2 separate regions of the Homo sapiens genome follow, and region 1 is linked to region 2. Evidence: fine-mapped expression QTL. A gene starts in region 2. The other region holds a variant in brackets. All regions are shown on one strand. Distances are between the middles of the regions.

Region 1 (5,376 bases), 28 kb after region 2:
AATATATATAAATATACATGTATATTTATTCATATAGAAATATATATAAATATACATGTATATTTATTCATATAGAAATATATATAAATATACATTTATATTTATTCATATAGAAATATATATAAATATACATTTATATTTATTCATATATAAATATACATTTACATATAAATATATATAAATATACATTCATATATATTTATATATAAATGTATATTTATATATATTTATATATATTTATATTTATTTATAAATAAATATATAAATATATATAAATATATATTTATATTTATATATAAATAACTATATAGATTTATATATATTTATTTATAAATAACTATAAATATAGATTTATATATATTTATTTATAAATAACTATAAATATAGATTTATATATATTTATTTATAAATAACTATAAATATAGATTTATATATATTTATTTATAAATAACTATAAATATAGATTTATATATATTTATTTATAAATAACTATAAATATAGATTTATATATATTTATTTATAAATAACTATAAATATAGATTTATATATATTTATTTATAAATATTATAAATAAATATATAAATATATATTTATATTTATTTATTTGTATTTATATATAAATATAATTATATATAAATATATATAATTTATATATAAATTTTTATATTATAAAATTATATATATATAAATATATAGTGTGTTAGAAGAGAGAAATTCTAGGAGGCAAAATAGGGAGAGTGGCATGGAGGGGGCATTATCTGTCACCTGGATTGCTGCAGGGGCCTCTGAGTAGTCTCCCTACTTTTAATACACCCCACATGACCCCTGCTCTTCACAACGGCAAGCGGGATTCTGTTCCATCCTAGATCATACCACATCTGGCCTCTGCTCAGAATCCTCCCGTGACTCCCATCTCATTCAGAGGAAAAAGTTCTCGCCACGGCCTCCCTGATCTGACCTCACCACCTTTCTGACCTCACCTGCCACCACATTCCCCTGACTCACTGTGTTCCACCCACAGTGGCTTCCTTGCTCTTCCTCAAATATGCCATGTAGAGTCCCACCTCAGGGCCTTTGCTCTGGCCGTTCCCCCTGCCTGGACTTCTCTTCCCCGAGATATCCGCATGACTCACTCTCTCACCTCCCTTAGGTCTGTGCTCAGATGACACTTCCTCCGTGAAGCCTCCCCTGTCCACCTCATCTAAAACTGCAGCATCTTCCCCACCCCTAGCACTTCCTATCTTCCTTCCCTCCTTTATGTTTATTCTTAGGAACTTGTCATCATCTGACATACTATACTTCACCCGTGTCTCTTCTTTGTTATCTAGAATGTCGGTTCCACAAGGGCCGGGATCTTTATCTGTGTAGTTCACAGCTGTATCCCCAATACCTAGAACAGTGCCTGGCACACAGATGCTTGATAAATATTTTTTCAGTGTATGAATGAATATGCACAAGCATCCCTACATGTTTATATTCACACATACTTGCCTCCTCACCTAAAATAAAAACCAAAGTCCTCATCGTGGCCCACAACCCTACACAATCTGGCCCCAAGGCATCTCTGCGACTTCACCTTCCACCACTGTCTCCCTTGCTCTCACCGTTCCTGCCTCACTCGTCTTCCTGCTGTTCCTCAAGCACACTAAACACATTCCTCATCATGAATAAAGAAATCTATTAAGTGAGTGGTACCAGCATTTTAAGAACACATGAAAGAGAATAAAAATGAATGGGGTACATTGCATACAGGTTCAGTACTGTTTTGTGAAACTTTTGGTTGAGCTGTGTGTGTGCGTGCATGTATGTGTAGCGGGTTGTGATGTAAAATGTATTTTTTTACTGTGGGTGGCAGTAAAAAAAAGTCTGAACACAACCTTAGAGCTTTGCAAAAGGGGAGAAGAGCTGCACCAACATCCCTGCCCCACAGATCCACCAGTGGAGGAAACAGGTAACCAAAGACATCCAAAGAAATGCAGCATCCTCACCTGACAAGGAGCGGGTAGGAGCAGGAGTGGCCCAGGGGCAGGGCCTGGCACCAGCCAGGGCATAATTGGGGAGGGCTCGTAGACACACTAACCCTACCCTTTCTGTTTCTTCCTCATCTTTCCTTTCCATCTGTTTCTCATGGTCTCCTGTCTGTCTCTCTCTCTCTCCCCTCTTTCTCTCTCCTCGCTCTTTCTCATCCCCTCCATTTCTGTGTCAATCTCAATCCATTTATATCGGTGGCCACTTTTCTATCTCTTTGTTCTATCTCTCTCTCTCTCTCTTTCCCACTTTGTCTCTGCACGCCTGTTGTGTTTTTCTGCCTGTCTCTCTCTTGCCCTCATCTCTCTGTCTCTCTCTTGCCCTCATCTCTCTGTCTCTCTGTGTCTGTGTCTCCCCCGCTCATTCCCATTTGCAGGTGCAATGTAGCAGGACAACTCATGGAGCCCCCCCGGGCCCATCGAGTACCGGACTGGCTGACCCCCTAGGGTTGGCAGTAGCCCCTGACCCTCAGTATGGCCAACACTACCGGAGAGCCTGAGGAGGTGAGCGGCGCTCTGTCCCCACCGTCCGCATCAGCTTATGTGAAGCTGGTACTGCT[G/A]GGACTGATTATGTGCGTGAGCCTGGCGGGTAACGCCATCTTGTCCCTGCTGGTGCTCAAGGAGCGTGCCCTGCACAAGGCTCCTTACTACTTCCTGCTGGACCTGTGCCTGGCCGATGGCATACGCTCTGCCGTCTGCTTCCCCTTTGTGCTGGCTTCTGTGCGCCACGGCTCTTCATGGACCTTCAGTGCACTCAGCTGCAAGATTGTGGCCTTTATGGCCGTGCTCTTTTGCTTCCATGCGGCCTTCATGCTGTTCTGCATCAGCGTCACCCGCTACATGGCCATCGCCCACCACCGCTTCTACGCCAAGCGCATGACACTCTGGACATGCGCGGCTGTCATCTGCATGGCCTGGACCCTGTCTGTGGCCATGGCCTTCCCACCTGTCTTTGACGTGGGCACCTACAAGTTTATTCGGGAGGAGGACCAGTGCATCTTTGAGCATCGCTACTTCAAGGCCAATGACACGCTGGGCTTCATGCTTATGTTGGCTGTGCTCATGGCAGCTACCCATGCTGTCTACGGCAAGCTGCTCCTCTTCGAGTATCGTCACCGCAAGATGAAGCCAGTGCAGATGGTGCCAGCCATCAGCCAGAACTGGACATTCCATGGTCCCGGGGCCACCGGCCAGGCTGCTGCCAACTGGATCGCCGGCTTTGGCCGTGGGCCCATGCCACCAACCCTGCTGGGTATCCGGCAGAATGGGCATGCAGCCAGCCGGCGGCTACTGGGCATGGACGAGGTCAAGGGTGAAAAGCAGCTGGGCCGCATGTTCTACGCGATCACACTGCTCTTTCTGCTCCTCTGGTCACCCTACATCGTGGCCTGCTACTGGCGAGTGTTTGTGAAAGCCTGTGCTGTGCCCCACCGCTACCTGGCCACTGCTGTTTGGATGAGCTTCGCCCAGGCTGCCGTCAACCCAATTGTCTGCTTCCTGCTCAACAAGGACCTCAAGAAGTGCCTGAGGACTCACGCCCCCTGCTGGGGCACAGGAGGTGCCCCGGCTCCCAGAGAACCCTACTGTGTCATGTGAAGCAGGCTGGTAGGCAGACAGGCAGAGAGAAGGTCATGGCCACCGTGATGGGGCCAACAGCAAGGGAGGGGTAGGGGCCCATACAGGAGTCCTCCTTTCTGAGCTCCAGCCCCAGCCCCTCGAACCACCTGTAATCTAGGCACCTTTGCCAACACCTCCCAAGGATGGAGGACTGGGCGAGGGACTGGGAAAGAGGCATATTTAGTTTTGTGGGGCCTGTCTCCGCTGCCTCCTTCTCCACTTCTACAATCTCATTCTCTCTCTCTCTCTCTCTGTCTCTCTCTCTCTCTCTCTCTCTCTCTCAGAAGTGACAATTCAGAAAAAGAAAAGAACACTGAGAATGCAGGTTTTTCTACTAACAGCTGAGGAGACAGGCTTTCTTACTTTAATGTCTCTCCTTCTGACACTGTCCAGAAGGGGGAATTTGTCCTGTAAAATAGACTTCCAGAGCTCTTTTGCCCCCTCTGCTCCCATGCACCCTCCCCTTCCAAGTCCTTTAGCAAGGCCTGGATGTTTAGGGAGAAAGTGGTCCAAGGCTGCTGACAAGAGGGACCAAAGGGGGTGCTGGGTTCCCAGGGAGCAGGGATGTTTAATTACTATGTCATGTGCAATGTTGTTTTAGGCCAACCCTTGCCCCAAGCCCAGTCTCTTCTCCCTCCCCACCATGTCCAGACCTCCCAAATGGTTCTTGTGCATCTGTTGGAGAAGTCAAGGGAGTAGGGAGAAGGGCCCCAAGGATGGGCCCAGGTTAGGTGAAGAGTAAGATGTGAGCTGAACTCCTCGAACTGAAGAGACCCACACTTGGTCACATTCTCTCACGCTGCCTTCAGGATCCCCAGCCCCCAACTCTTCTTCCTGAGGATGGAAATCCACTCCAGCCCCACTAGGACTGATGTGGGTGCCATACAGGCAGGAGCAGCCCACCAGGAAAGTGTAAGGAGGGAGCTGAACTCCCCAGAGTAGCTGGACCACAGAGACTTGGGTCAGAGCTGATTTCAACCCCAGAATTGTCTCTCGGGTTCACCCTACTCTTCTGAAGATGAAAATTTGTTTGGGGCCTTGGTAACCGATAGCGGTACAAACTCCAAGGCACTGTGGACTTGAGTCCATTCCTATCTGACCTCTTTTTGTCCCCCTCAAGCCTCAGGGGCCTCAAGCCCCTCCTTAGTAGCCCTTGGCTGACTGGGCCCTGAGCCCCAAGCATCCTTCTTTCCCAACAACCCTCCTTCCCCATCCTTCCCCCACCCTTACCTACACCCAAAGTGGAGCACACTGCAGTCAGATTCTCCAGGAGGGAGATCCAAGCCTCCTCCCAGGGGTGGAGTCCACTCTGGGCTTACTTTGAGGCCTGTTCTGTGGATTGGTGAGCCAAGCTGGCACTCCTTGCCCTGGTCTTACCCAGGCTCTCTGTCCCCCTCTCACTTCCTGTGGGGCCGGAATCTGTATTTATCCATCCCCCTTTCCCTTCTTTATAGAAGTCCCTGTCCTAAACTCCCTCCCTAGCCCAAGAGAGCCCCAGAACTGGGGAAGCCTGACCCATACAGAATGGGGAGGGCACTCTAGGCAGGAGAGACATTAATGAGCCTGGCTGCAGAGTGGCCCTGGAAAGGCAGGCCAGAGTGGCTGAGAGGCTGGGAGTAGGGGAGCCTGTTCTCTCAGCGATAGTGATGGGGGTGCCTTTCCGAGGGGGTGGGGTGGGAAGACCAAGGGGGTGGGGGGTAGATAGGGTACATTTAGGAGGGTTTTCCTCCAT
Region 2 (5,376 bases):
ATTCGGTATTGTCTTTTTCTTTTTAGTCAATCTAGTGAGCATGGTTTCATTTTGTATTTTCTTGACTACCAATGAGGTTTAGCACATTTTCCTAAGTTTTTGGCCAGTTGGCTATCCTCTTTTGCAAGGTCCCTGTTCAAGTATCTTGTCTGTTATTCTTTTGGGTTATCTGTCTTTTTCTTATTGGTTGGTAAAAGTTATTTGTATATTCTGGATATGAGCCTTTTACTGGATATATACTTTGCAAATATTTTATCTAATTCTATGACTTATCTTTTCACTATTTTAATGGTATCTTTTGATAACCAGAAGTTTTAAATTTTAATGCTGTTCAATGTATCACTCCTTTCCTTTATGGTAATTACTTCTTGTCTTGTTTAATTCCTTCCTTACCCCAAAGTTATAAAGATATTCTCTTACATCATATTTTAGAAGACTTATTGTTTTGCCATTTTTTTTTTTTTGAGACAGAGTCTTGCTCTGTCGCCCAGGCTGGAGTGGAGTGGTACGATCTCGGCTCACTGCAGCCTCGACCTCCTGGGCTTAAGCAATCCTCCTACCTCAGTCTCTGGAGTAGCTGGGACCACAGGTGCGCACCACCACGTTCTGCCAATTTTTGTATTTTTAGTAGAGACAGGGTTTTGTCATGTTGGCCAGGCTTTTCTCAAACTCCTGAGCTCAAGCAATCTGCCTGCCTTGGCCTCACAAAGTTCTGGCATTACAGGCGTGAGCCCGTGCCCAGCCCGTTTTGCCTTTTTTTGTTTGTTTTTCGAGACAGAGTCTTGCTCTGTTGCCCAGGCTGGAGTGCAGTGGTGAGAACACAGCTCACTGCAGCATCCTGGGCTCAAGTGATCCTCCCACCTCAGCCTCCCAAGTAACTGGGACTACAGGCGCACACCACCATGTCCAGATAAGGTTTAAATTTTTTATAAAGACGGGGTCTCAATATGTTGTCCCGGGTGGTCTCAAACTCCTGAACTCAAGCAATCCTCCTGCCTTGGCCTCCGAAAGTGCTGGGATTACAGGTATGATCCACTACACCCGGCCTCCAAAACATTTTCTAATTTTCCATGGATTTTTCTCCCTCCCCAAAGCATGTGGGCATAAAAATGACCACCGGAGGGCCTTGTCAAAAGGCAGGTTTTGAAGCCCCATCTGAAAACCTCCTAGATTAGTATTTCTGGGAGGTAGGCTTGGGTATCTACACTTTACAAGTTCTCCAGGGGATTCAGATGCAAGTGGGTTCCAGGTCCACAGTCTGGTAGCAGAGCCTGCATTTCCTAAGGGCAGAGAGCATAGGTCTGAGTCACCCGGTACTGTTAGTGCCCAGCACTGGGCCTAACATAAAACCATTTGTCATAAATGAAGGAACCAATGGATGAAGGAAGAAAGGAAATAAAACACAATTTCTTATATCAAGATAATTTGAATTCTTGAATGCTGTAACTTAGGGGAACCACTGAAGCATCATTTGGTCCCAATTTAATCATATTTGAAACAAATATTTTTTTCCTTGTCTTCATATCTCTGCCTACCAAGCGTTCTCCTCACCTCTCCTATTCTGTTGTCCTGGGACATGGCTTTAAGTATGGGTTCTGCCTGTCTGCTGGCCCCGAGAAAGTGGGGATGGCACAGGAGATATCCTGAGAGGGGCTGTTCAGAGTTGGGCAGCGCTCCTTTCCCACCCCAACCCCCCAGCCAACCTCCAGGCCTTGCAGGGAAAATGCCCATAGAACCCCATTCTAAATCAGTTTATGAATCCCACCTCTCCGGGCCCTAAGCATGCCTCCCAGCCCAAAGCTTTTGAGAAACTTTCGCCGGACCTTTGTCCCGACCCAGATCCTAGCGTCCTCTATGCCCTGCCTCCTCTGCACTTGTAGCCCATGTGAGTTGCTCTCTCAGCAGCCTCTTGGCCATCTCTCCCCACCTCCACTCATGCCTCTCTCGAGCATCTCAGAAAGGCCCGAGCCTGACTTCCCCAGCCAGCTATTGTCCTGGCAGCACAGCCGCCACGCCAGCGTCCCCACCCAGTCAGCCAGCCGGCTGCTCCCTGGCCTCGCCAGCACCCCCCGCCCCCCCCCCCGCTCCCCGCCCCGCCCCAGGGAGGACCAGGCTGGCAGCTGGGAGTCTCCCTGCCTGCTCAGCCTTCCTCCTTCCCTCCCTCTCCCTCCCTGCCTCCCTCCTCCTCCGCCCGCCCCTGAGGCAGGGACCGTGCAAATCGAGGAGAGGGGGGACGGACAGGCCTGATGGGGTCCAGCTTAGGGCCCCGGACTCCCCACTGATGCTCTATCCAGGCTGGGTGTCCCCAGCATCGTGGGACCTGGATTTGTGTGCACCGGGGTGGTTCCCAGGCCAGGAGGGTCCCTCTGGCAGGCCCTTGGTGCCCTCGTTTTGCATGAGGACCCCCCTCGGATGCTCTGAGCCACCCTCCTCAACCCGGATCTAAAACCCGGGACACGGCTATCAGGCCAGCCTCTCTCTCCACCCCACCCCCTCTTTCTGGCGTCCATCCCCTCCCCAACACCACCTCTGCTGCTGCCTCTGGCTGTGGACCTGCACCTCTTCCCCATCCCCGCCAGGCCCGGGGAGCGGGGTGAGCCTGGATGAGAGCCCCCCCAACCTGGGGCTCTCCCAGGCCATGGCCCGTGTGCTCCCAGGGAGGAGCCCCGGACCCTGAGCATCTGCTGGAGGCTTGGCAGAGGCCCCGCGGGGACCGTGTCTTCTGAGGACAAAAGGCGGCGGCCAGCAGGCAGACGGAGGGGGGGGGTGGGGGGTGGGGGGGGTAGGGGGACCGGCAGCCAGGCAGGCAGACGGGTAGCAGGGGCCAGCACTGGCCCCCCTCCCAGCTTGGCAGTGGCATGAAGATGGGAGTGGGAGTGTATAGTGGAGGAAGCACCTGCCGGGACCCCCACCTGCCAGCTAGTTGGACACCCCAAGGCTGTGTGCTGCCCACCTGGTGTTCCCCAACACCCCCAGCCCTACCCAGTGCACCCCTCCGGTGCCTGCTTTCCCTGATGCCTGCGATTTAGACCAGCCCGGCTGTATCCACGGCAACAGAAGCAGGAGTGTCACTGGCCGCCAGATCACTGAGGGTCCCACAATGTGGCCCGGGCTGTGATTTACCTGGGTGAGACAGCTTGAGCCCCATCGTGGATTCCAAGACATCCCTGCTGAGAGAGCCAAGGTAAGCAGTCAGCATCCCTCCACCAAGGATGGGGGGCTGGGACTTCTGTTCTGTCTCCCCACACATACTTCAGAGTCTCCATCACTGCCATGCTCTCTGTCTCTGTCTGACTCTGTTAGTCTCTTTCTGCTCCATCAAGGGGCTCCTTGGTACCCAAGCCTGGGGACTCCTCATCTTCCCCCCATCTTCCCCAATCCCAAATGTCCCATGAGAAAGGGAACCACCACCTGTTTCCCCTCACAGGGTCTGTTTTTATCATCATGGTTGCGTTTGGGCATGAGGCTGTGTTAATCTTTCCTTGTGTGCTGGCTGTGGAAGGGATGCCTGGGAGCCCGGCGGCCGTGTTCCCTTCACAATGCCTGCACCCTGGGCAGGCTCAGCCTCTTGCGGCTGCTCCTCTCCCTCTCCCTCCTCCTCCACTCTCCTCCAGGATCCCTGGCCTGCTGGCCGGGTGTGTGTGTGTGTGTGTGTGTGTGTGTGTGTGTGTGTGTGCACCTGGGTAGCAAGCAGGTGGGTAGACATGACAGAGAAGCTGCTCCCAGCCCAGACCATCCCCCACTCCTTCTTTCCTCCTTTCCTTCCTTCCTTCCTTCCACCCTCCCCACCTCCCCATCTCTCCCTACAGGTAGCAGAGTTTTGCTCACTCACCACTGAAGATGTTGCCGATTCCCAGCTAGGGGGAGGAAGTCACTGTAGGGCTAAAGGACAGTGAAGTGGTGGTGGGGAGCACTTCCAGGCCCTAGGCTGCCTGATGGTTCTGTGGGGGCAAAGACCAATCCCATGACAACCTGCAGGGGCCAGGAACAACATGGTTGTCCCTACAGTGTGGGACCCAGCCTCCACCACAAGGCTCTCTGTCTCTGTTTCAGATGTCCATGTTGTGTCTGAGACCCCCCGGATCTTGTGGCCTTGTGCCCAGTAGCCGGAGGTCCATATATCTGGAAGGGCAGGAAAGCCTGGTACATGGAGAACATGGATCCTCCCAGGGACACTTCCCCCAACTACTAGCTCTGCAACTTTAGTGGAAGCATGCCACTTACCGAACCTCAGTTTTCCCATCTGTCAAAGAGACTGGTAACCCTTCCCTGATGGGTGTGTGTAGGGATTGAATGAGTTGGTGCATGTAAGTAAGAGATGTGCATCGAGGTGGCACTGAAGCAATGTCAGCAAAGCTCACAGTCAATATTGTTGCTGATTATTCATGATTAATAGTGTTATCGATTACTTGGAGGAGGGACAGGTCCTTCTTCTCCAGGGTCTCAGCAGAGATCTGGGGAGGGCAGCAAGTGGGCAAATGGAGGGTAGTGGAAGGGAGGCAGGAGAAGCCCTGTGTTAATACTTCTCATTTGTAGAGAATGATAAGTGGTTATGGGCAGAGCCTCCCTCCCCCACCCCACTCCAGTCTTCTTTCCCTGCACTTGTCCCTGTTTGTGCGCACACACACACACAGAACCTTGAGCCCCCATGAGCCAGCAGAGGCCTGGCTTGCAGCCTGCAGCCTTTCTGGCCCTGGTGATGTATGTGTCTCCCTGTTGAGGGGAGACTTGGCAAGAGTTTGGCCTGTGGTCAGTGGTTGGCAGGGCCTGGAGATGAGGCTGAAGCTCCTGAGATCACGGGGCTTCGGGTAGAGCTGGGGTGTGGCCCATGCAGCAGCCAGACCTGTGAGGGACGCGTCCCAGGGAGCTGCTCACCTAGAGCCTGGGGTGGGGGAAGAACGGGGTCTGCTGGCTGATTTCAGGGCATGGAGATGTGATGGGACACAGAGTGTGGGGTCGGTGGCCAAGGGAAGAGGAGGAATGGGGAAAGACTGAGGCCCAGAAGACCATCTCTGTGGGGGCAGGGAGGGGGGCTTTGAGGCATAAAGTAGACTTTTCTGAAGAAGCATTTGGTGTGGGAGAGGACCTGGTCTGTGGTCTGGAGGCCTCTGGGCCCGAGCGTGGTTGTATATATGCTACTGAAAATGTGTGGCTGAGTGTGTAGTCTGTGTGTGCATGTCTGTTCATGGGCAGTGTGGCTGTGTATGAACCTGTGTGTGTAAGCAGGCCGTGTGATGGCATGTGTGTGAGTGTGTGGGTATCTGGGTAGGCTTGTGTGTGTACTGTGGGGTGGGCATGACTTTGCATGTCTGTCTGGGTGATCAAATGGACATGTTTGATTTTGAGCCTGAGTGTGGGTGTGTTTTCTCTGAGCCA

Alleles and levels. Positions count from the first base shown, and alleles are read on the strand shown. Sizes are in standard deviations (SD) of each study's normalised expression.
For the expression in spleen of the gene that starts at base 2,489 in region 2, A is the low allele of the variant in region 1 and G is the other (small effect, 0.37 SD a copy in GTEx).

What was found.
Region 1: its variant is fine-mapped to the expression of GPR173 in spleen (GTEx, PIP 0.97).

The regions. Positions count from the first base shown.
Region 1 is chrX:53,074,121-53,079,496 of GRCh38, forward strand. GPR173 (G protein-coupled receptor 173) reads left to right here. Exons shown (of 2, transcript NM_018969.6): 2 at 2,405-5,376. The coding sequence starts at 2,502. The coding sequence ends at 3,623. Among named protein-coding and RNA genes, the nearest start is that of TSPYL2, 5.6 kb to the right of the region's middle. RefSeq lists an enhancer at 3,470-3,529. The variant G/A (reference allele first, on the strand shown) is at 2,588.
Region 2 is chrX:53,046,301-53,051,676 of GRCh38, forward strand. It overlaps GPR173 (G protein-coupled receptor 173), which reads left to right and starts at 2,489. Exons shown (of 2, transcript NM_018969.6): 1 at 2,489-3,184.